2 separate regions of the Homo sapiens genome follow, and region 1 is linked to region 2. Evidence: fine-mapped expression QTL. A gene starts in region 2. The other region holds a variant in brackets. All regions are shown on one strand. Distances are between the middles of the regions.

Region 1 (4,000 bases), 110 kb before region 2:
GTTAGCTTGAATGTCAGTCCACATTGCATGGGTCTGGGTGAAACTGGGATGATTTAAGTTTCCTGTGGACCTAGTGATCAGATTCACAGAAACTCAGGCTTCACAACTTTGGCACTACTCATATTTTGGGCTGGATAATTTTTTGTTGTGGGTGGGGCTGTCCTGTGCTTCAGAGGATGTTTCGTGGTACCCCTATTCTCCACCCACTAGATGTCAATAGCAGACAGACAGACAGACAGACACACACACACACACACACACACACACACACACACACACCAGTCAAAATGATTAAAAATGTGTCTTCCCTGAGGCTGTCCTTGAAATGCCCAGCCTGGACACAGGGAAGACCAGGGAATGCTGAACCCACCAGGTGCTTTCCCCATATGTAGGAGCTGCCATGTCTGCCCTCAAAGGTCCAACAGTCTAAGTGTCCTCAGGCTGAACACCCTGGACTTGTCATTGACTAATCGTTGATTCTTATTTCTCCAGCCAGTCAGCCACCACGACCTGTTGATTTTCTGCATTTAGAACCTCCTGCACCTACCTGTCTTTTTCTCTGCATCATTCTCAGCATGGCACATAACCGGGGGCTTGGCAAGTGTGGGCACGATGCAGAGATGTTGGGAACTATTGTCAGGGATGCCCAGCTGGGCCAGGAGACACCACCAGGGGCCTTCCCTGGGGGTGGTAACAGTTTTCTTTTTTTTTAATCAGTTAGGACTCTTGTTTACCCTTTGTACCCAGCGCTAGCCCAGTGCCTGACACATAGTAAGCACTCAAAAATAATCTGGGGGTTTGATTAATCAATTGATTAATTAACTTGATACACACACACACATGCATGCATAGAGATGGCCTCTCTTTTTGCCGTCCATTCACATACACATTACCTTTCATTACAGAGACACCAGGTTACAAAGAAAACCCTTAAGAGTTTGCTGTTGACTTGAGCCGTGTCACTTGTAAGAAGGACAAAATATGTATGTGGTCAGTTCGAATCCCAGGCCTGAAACTGGAAATAAACTAACCCCTTGTTGAAATCGCACAGGAAACCTGAAGGGAGGTGGGGGAGACGGGTGGCAGGAAAAATGCCTGAGATCTTACACAACTTGTGCAAACAGAATGACAGGGCTAGGCAGCCCTGGGAGTCCAGGAATTAATAGCCCTGCCGAGGCTCCGGGGCTCTGGAGATGGAGCTATTTAAAGTCAAGAAATGTCATTTCCACCCACAGAGCCTGCCCCAGTTGCATTATCTGGAGCCTCTTCAGCCCCGGTGTTCTGGCAGCCTCCTGGCCTGACCTCCCAGTGGCGGGACCACGGGGCTCAAGGCCAACCTGTCATCACTGCTCTGTTGGGAGATTGTGGGGGGGTGGGGGGGGCTGACCTTAGCCTCTCCCAGTTCCTCCTCTTCCTCTTCTCTGCTCAGGCCCAGGACAAGCTGAGTGGACACTCAAGGCCCAGCTCACCCCTCTGCAAAGGCTACTGAGAGTACTAAGGTTGCTGCCCACATACAGGGGCCAGCCAGCCTGGCCAGCAGGGTAGGTCTGGGGTAGTGGATGGGGAGAGATGGGGTGTGGAGACATAGACCCTTGCCCACCAGAATCATACTCTTGTCCTGCTATATGACCTCAGGCCATTTGCTTAACCTCTCTGGACCCTCATTTCTTTACCTGGACTGGGAAATGAGAGTCTTCCTCTCCTTGCCCTATTTCTGGGGAAGGCCACAGGAGATCAGAGAAGGGATGTCTTTTGAACCTTTAGGAAGAAAAGCACCATAGAAATCCAGGTATTACCTGCAGCTCCTCCTCCCCTCCCTTCCAGGCAAGGTAATCCAGGAATGCTTCCTCCGGAGGCAAGAAGGCAGGAAGCTGGCATTTGAAGTGTCAGTGGGCTGTAGACTGTGTGACAGAGCCATCCAGCCCCATGCTCCCAGGAGCTGAGGTTCACATTCTTGCCAGGCACCTAAGGCAAGAACTCCCTCACATCCTGTCTGCTCTGATCTTACATATCTGTTCTGGCTGATGTTGCTGCAGTTTTGGGGAGGTGGGGGACTTAGAAGCCCAAACAATGTGCCAAACCAAGTTTTGCCCTGCAGGTGTCTAATGCCTGGGGATTGCTGGGCTTTTTTCCTGAAGCTGAGGAGAAAGCACAGTGGTGCTAAATGAGTTTCCAAGAGAGGTGTAATGAAATACCAGGGACACCCCAGCCCAAAGTCTTCCTGAACTCATTGCTGCTGCCACCCAAGGGGTAAAAGGGAGCTAGGAAATGTCTTTTTTTTT[G/T]TCTTTAGGAAACAGCAATGGAAATGCAGCCTTCTACTCTCTTAAGCCCCCTTCTCTTGTCTTATCTTAGAACTTGCGTGAAAGCTATGGATATTTTCCTCATTTAATTTTTTAATTTAATTATTCTAGACACACTAAAAGGTATGTATCAGAATAGTCTAGATTATGCTGCAGTAAAAACCCCAATATCTCAGTGGCTTAACACACACTTCTGCTTCTGCTACTTACTGCTTCTCACTTCTGCTACATGCCCTTTGTGGATGAGCAGGGGACTCTGACCATTGAAATCACTTAGGGACCCAGGCTGGTGGAACAGCCACCATCTGAAGCACTGTCAGAAGCAAAAGAGATGCCGGGCACAGTGGCTCATGCCTGTAATCCCAGCACTTTGGGAAGCCAAGGCAGGAGGATCACTTGAGGCCAAGTTCAAGACCAGCTTAGGCAACATAGCAGGACCCTGTCTCTAAAAAAATTTTTTTTAATTAGCCGGGTGTGGTGGTGTGCACCTGTAGTCTCGGCTACTCAGGAGGCTGAGGCAAGAGGATCACTTGAGCCCAGGACTTGGAGGCTGCAGTGAGCTGTAATTGTGCCACTGCACTCCAGTCTGGTGACAGGGTAAGACCCTGTCTCAAAAAAAAAAAAGAAAGGAATCTAGAGGGTCTCAAAAAGGCAGTTAATGCTCTAGCTCACAAATCATTGACCAGAACTAGTCACAGGGCCTCTCCCAACCACAGAAAACCTGAAATTACTATCCTACCAGGCGCTTGGAAGGGGAAGGACCCAGAAATGCTTGGTGGACAACAGTAATGATGACCGCAGAATAAAGAATTATATCACAGACACCGTGTACCTACCAACCTAGGAAATAACACTTTGCCAATACCAGGGAAGCCCTCTGTGTACCTGATGCAATCCCATCTCTCTGCTCTCCCCACAGAGGTGACCATTCTCCTGAATGTGATATTTGCCATTCCCTGTGTTTCTCTGTTTTACTATCTATTTCTCCATATTTACGATATGTAATAGTGTCTTGCATGTATTTAAAGACCATATAAGTGGTATCATACTGTATATATTCATCTGCAACTTTCTTTTCTGATCTACTGTGTGTTTCTGAGAGCCACCCACATTGATGAGTGAAGCTGTGATTGGTTCTGTGCTGTATACAGTCCCTTGTGTGACTACCGTAATGTCCAGTCTCCATGTCAGCTGCTTCCAGCTTTTCATGATTACATACAGCACTGCCATGAACATTCTTATGCACCTACAAAACAGAGCTTCTTCAGAGTAAAGACTTAGGAGGGCATCTTCCTATTGATGACATATTGCCAAATAGCTCTCTAAAATGGTTTTACCAAGTCATTCCACATCCTCACCATCACTTGGTTATGTTTGATGAGTGGGACATTCCCCGAAGGTTTTAATAAAGTTGAACTCTTTTTTCCTTTTGATACGGGGTCTCACTCTGTCACCCAGACTGGAGTGCAGTGGTGCAATCACAGCTCACTACAACATCTGCCCCCAGGCTCAAGTGATCCTCCCACCTCAACCTCCCAAGTAACTAGGACTACAGATGTGCACTACCAGGCTCTGCTAGTTTTTTTTGTATTTTTTGTAGAAACAGGGTTTCATCATGTTGCCCAGACTGATCTTGAACTCCTGGTCTCAAGCGATCCTCCCACCTCAGCCTCCCAAAGTGCTAGGATTACTGGCGTGAG
Region 2 (4,000 bases):
CTCTGGGGTGAGAAGACAGCAAGAAAACTGCCTAACTGAAGGGAATGGGGGCCCTGCTCAAGAAGGGGGCCAGGCAGCTGGAATCAGGGGAGTGCATCATCCTCGGGAGCTGACAACAGCCAGGCTACACCAGGGCACCCGCCTCTCAAAATCAGCTGGGCGCCCACTCTCCTCCTAAAGAACACCCTTCTGGCCCTCAGTCTGTTCCCCTTCTCAGGTAGAGATTGGGGCTGCTATGGGGACTGGCCCTGTAGGGTTGAGCCACAGACAGCTCTTCAGCCCAGTAGCAGTGGAGCAGGCCCTGTCCTGCCCTCCCAGCAATAACCACCTCCCTGGAGGCCAGCTGAGATGCCTGGCTACTTGGCACCAGGGACTTCCTGACACCACAGTCAATTAATTCCTCAGGGGCCTGTGGCTGAAGAAAAGGTGCCCAGCCCCCACCACTCCTCAGCTGCCCCCCAACCTCTCTATGGCAGAGAGGCAGGGAGTGGCCCTGTACATAGACTGCTGGGGATTGGGTTTGATTTGTTTTGTTTTTTTTAATTCCATTTTGATAATTTTTTTCCTGCTCTGGGTGGTGGTGGCACATGGATGAATGAGTATTTAATAAAAGTTCCAAATTTCCACCTGGGTCCCTCCATCCTTTCAGCTCTAGGCCCGGGTGGCAGGGTTGGTCAAATCAGGCTATCAGCCCTGTCTCCCTGGCACAAACCCCACTCAGCCTTGGTGCCAGAGTGGTGGGGCTGGCCTGCCAGGGACACAGGTGGGAAGGAAGCCCAGTATAAGATAAAGCCCTGAGGAGCTGCTGGTGGCTTCTTGCCCACAGCTGAGCAGGTGGGCTCCAGGGTAGCCAAACAGGACCAGGGTGACCGCTGCTTCCAGGCTCTGGCTGAATCTCAGGCCTCATGTGATTGAGCTGGGGGAACTCTTTTCCTGCCTTTTCTTGTGAAACGTAGTCAGAGCCCCTCCAACCCAGCCACCCCCAAATCACACAGTCAGCTTCTCCAAGAGGGCAAAGCCCCAGGTTAGAGTGAGGCTGGGGGACACCTTTGCCAAGGTTACTGAGATTCAAGGAGCAGAGTCTGATGCCTCTGGAGCTGAAGTCTTGGCTCTATTACCCAGCTCTGGGGGTGCCCACCTAGGTGCCTAGGACTGTGCTGTGGGATTTCAAAGCCACAATCAGACCCCACTGAAAAGTGAGTTGGTGAGACCAGATCAGCTCCAGGGGGAAGAAGGGATACAGGGGAAGGCACTTGATGGGAAGAAGCTCTGGGTTTGACTCTGCCTACACAGGAACATTGCAGGGATTGGTGGTGCCTCTTTTCCTCTCTCTGCTGTGATGGATATGCCCCAACCCCTTCCTGCCTCCTAGGATTGGAACCCCCTCCTCTGATCCAGGCATCCTCTCCCAGGATGCCTAGAAAGCTCCCATTTACTCTTGCCACCAGCTCCTTGGGAAGAGAGGGGCGGGGGCGTGCTTCCAGGCAGGAGGTATTCCCAGCACCTTACTTGGAGGGATTTTTATTTGGCTTAGGGGGTAGGGGGAGGTGTCTTAGAATTGGCCTGAGCAGATGTCTTCAACATCTGTGACCACCATTCCTGGTGTGGGCGTGTCCCAGTCCTTTTGGACACTGGATCTGAAGAAAGGAAGCACTGACATGGAGGGCCCTGAATCCCAAGCCTGCTGCTGCTGGGACCCTTAAAGTTGAGGTGCACCACAAGGCTCACCCCCATGTGTTTCAGGAAGTTTCCAGTGTCTTCAGGGCTACTGGGGCTAGAGTGGGCAGTGCTCTGAGTACCGTTTAGAGCCAGTGCTGAGGGGATAGGGAGCCAGCAAGTCAAGTGCCACATCCTGACCTGGAGAGGTGCCCTGGCCCATTTCCTTCTCCAGCTTTGTGATGTTGCCTTTGTTTCCTTCCACTTGGATGGAGTCCCACCACCATGGTAATGTTAAGTAGCACCAAAAGCTCTACCCAGAGCCTACTATGTGCTTTACGTCCATTCTCAGACATTCTTACAACACGGAGGCATTTTTCCTGCTTTACAAATGAGGAAACTGCTCAAGGAGGTTAAGTAACTTACCCAAGGCCTCCTATGTTGAACTAGGACTGGACCTTTACTCTGTCTGACCCCAATATCAGGATGAGCTTGCTTTTTCCCTCAGCAAGCTGCGTCTGGGAGCCCTGGAAGGCTCCAGAAGCCTCCGGGTCTGAGGAGGCTTCTAAAAGGGCCTCACATGCCCCGGGAGCCACGTGGATACAGAACGAGGGTTCCCGCTCTCGGAGAGTTGGTCCCCAGTTCCCATGCAGGGAGTGGAGCCTCTGAGCACTGCCAGAACAACAGGCAGGGTTCTCGACAGCACAGAGCCTCACGCAATGTGCAGGCAGGTGGTGCTCTCGCTCCACCACGGCACCTCTGCGGTCTCTGCAGCCGTTTGCATTTCCTGAAACCGGATCTTAGTGTCAGAGCCGCCCCCAGCCGGGCGGGCGCCTCAGCCATGGCCCTGCGCAAGGAACTGCTCAAGTCCATCTGGTACGCCTTTACCGCGCTGGACGTGGAGAAGAGTGGCAAAGTCTCCAAGTCCCAGCTCAAGGTGAGGGGCACCCGGGACCCGGGGGAGGACGGCAGATGCACCACACCAGCCCCTGCCGCCTGGGAGCCAGGTGTGGACACTGTGCCACTCCAGGGGCACCCAGCCATCCAGCGTCCCGGGCCTGGGGTCGGGGGGCTGGTCCTGGGTAACTGGGCCAACGTAGCCTGGTAGATGCCGCTGCCCACCCTCCAGAGACCTAGTGAAGTGTGTGCAGAAACCTTGCGCAGAACTGGGCCCCACAACTGGAGGCCAGGAGGTTCTGAGGGCCATTATGGGGTTCTGAGGGCCAGGAGCCAGGCCACATCCCAGACTCTGTGTGATGAGCACACACACCTCCACAGAGTCATGCTTGGGCACGCAGTGTGCTCTTTCTTGCTGCTTCCTCCTGACTTTCAAGAGAAACAGTTAGCCAGTGCTTGGCAGTCATTTCCTCTGGAGCTGAGAGAGGCATAAAGGGGCCGCCCCCAGTCCCAAACCTGTCTGGCCTGTCTAACCCTGCCCGCCAGGTGGGACAGAGCTGCGGAGTGGGTGAGGACTGAGGACCCTATTATACTGCTACGCAGCTCACCCCCCTATCCACCACACATATCAGGTTGGGAAACTTACCTTAGGCCTTGAGACCTCAGGTAGGGAAGGGGGAGAATCTAAGCCCAGGAAAATCCCAATCAATGATTGTCCTGAAGTCAATCATCTGGCCTAGACAATTTCTGGGAGGCCAAGGAGTTTTTCTCTCTCTTCCTCTAGTCCTCCAGTAGTGCTGCCTTCCCTACCCTAGTTAGTGGGGAGGAAGCAAGGCCCTCAGCCACTAGAATCAGCGAACACTGGGGGAAAGGAGCAAGGTAGGCCTCAGCTCTCTAGGACCTGCCATAGGGGTGCCTTCGTTCACTCTGCAAGTACTTGAGTGCCCCTCGTGAGGCTCTGTGCCTGGCATGTGGCTAGGCACTAAACTGGTGTCTCCCTGCCCCATCCTCCAAAGGAGACGTGTGGTCTCAAGGAAACCTCCATTCTTAATGACCGAGGTAGAGGGTGCTGGATACCTGAGAGATGAATGGGACAGAACAGTTATTGTGCCCCACCACCGTTCCAACCCCCTACTTTACTGAACTTGGATGTGAGGAACTTGAATATCCCAAACTGGTCCTATGTTAAATTCCTTACCTGGATTTGTGAGCATCTAATAGATGATTTCACTCCCCCAGGAAGGAGAGCCCACTACTATCTTTTGTCACCTAGGGAGAACCTCCTAACAGGCAGATTCTTCCTTACATCCTATTTAAATCTCTTGTATTGCAGATCATGTCATTTGGTTGGGTCCTCAGTATAAATGGAAAAAAGTCGATCATCCAAAATCCATTTCTGCAAACTCTGTGTCCCACCCCTACCTCCCACCCTGTCCCTTTAATATCT

The links. PIP is the estimated chance that this variant, and not a neighbour inherited with it, causes the effect.
Region 1: its variant is the best candidate, but not a certain one, in a credible set for the expression of DEF6 in lung (TOPMed, PIP 0.77).

The regions. Positions count from the first base shown.
Region 1 is chr6:35,184,256-35,188,255 of GRCh38, forward strand. No RefSeq gene overlaps it. Among named protein-coding and RNA genes, the nearest start is that of SCUBE3, 28 kb to the right of the region's middle. RefSeq lists silencers at 301-682, 1,077-1,371. The variant G/T (reference allele first, on the strand shown) is at 2,283.
Region 2 is chr6:35,295,360-35,299,359 of GRCh38, forward strand. It overlaps DEF6 (DEF6 guanine nucleotide exchange factor), which reads left to right and starts at 2,459. Exons shown (of 11, transcript NM_022047.4): 1 at 2,459-2,593. The coding sequence starts at 2,498. It overlaps ZNF76 (zinc finger protein 76), which reads left to right. Exons shown (of 14, transcript NM_003427.5): 14 at 1-626. RefSeq lists a silencer at 796-960.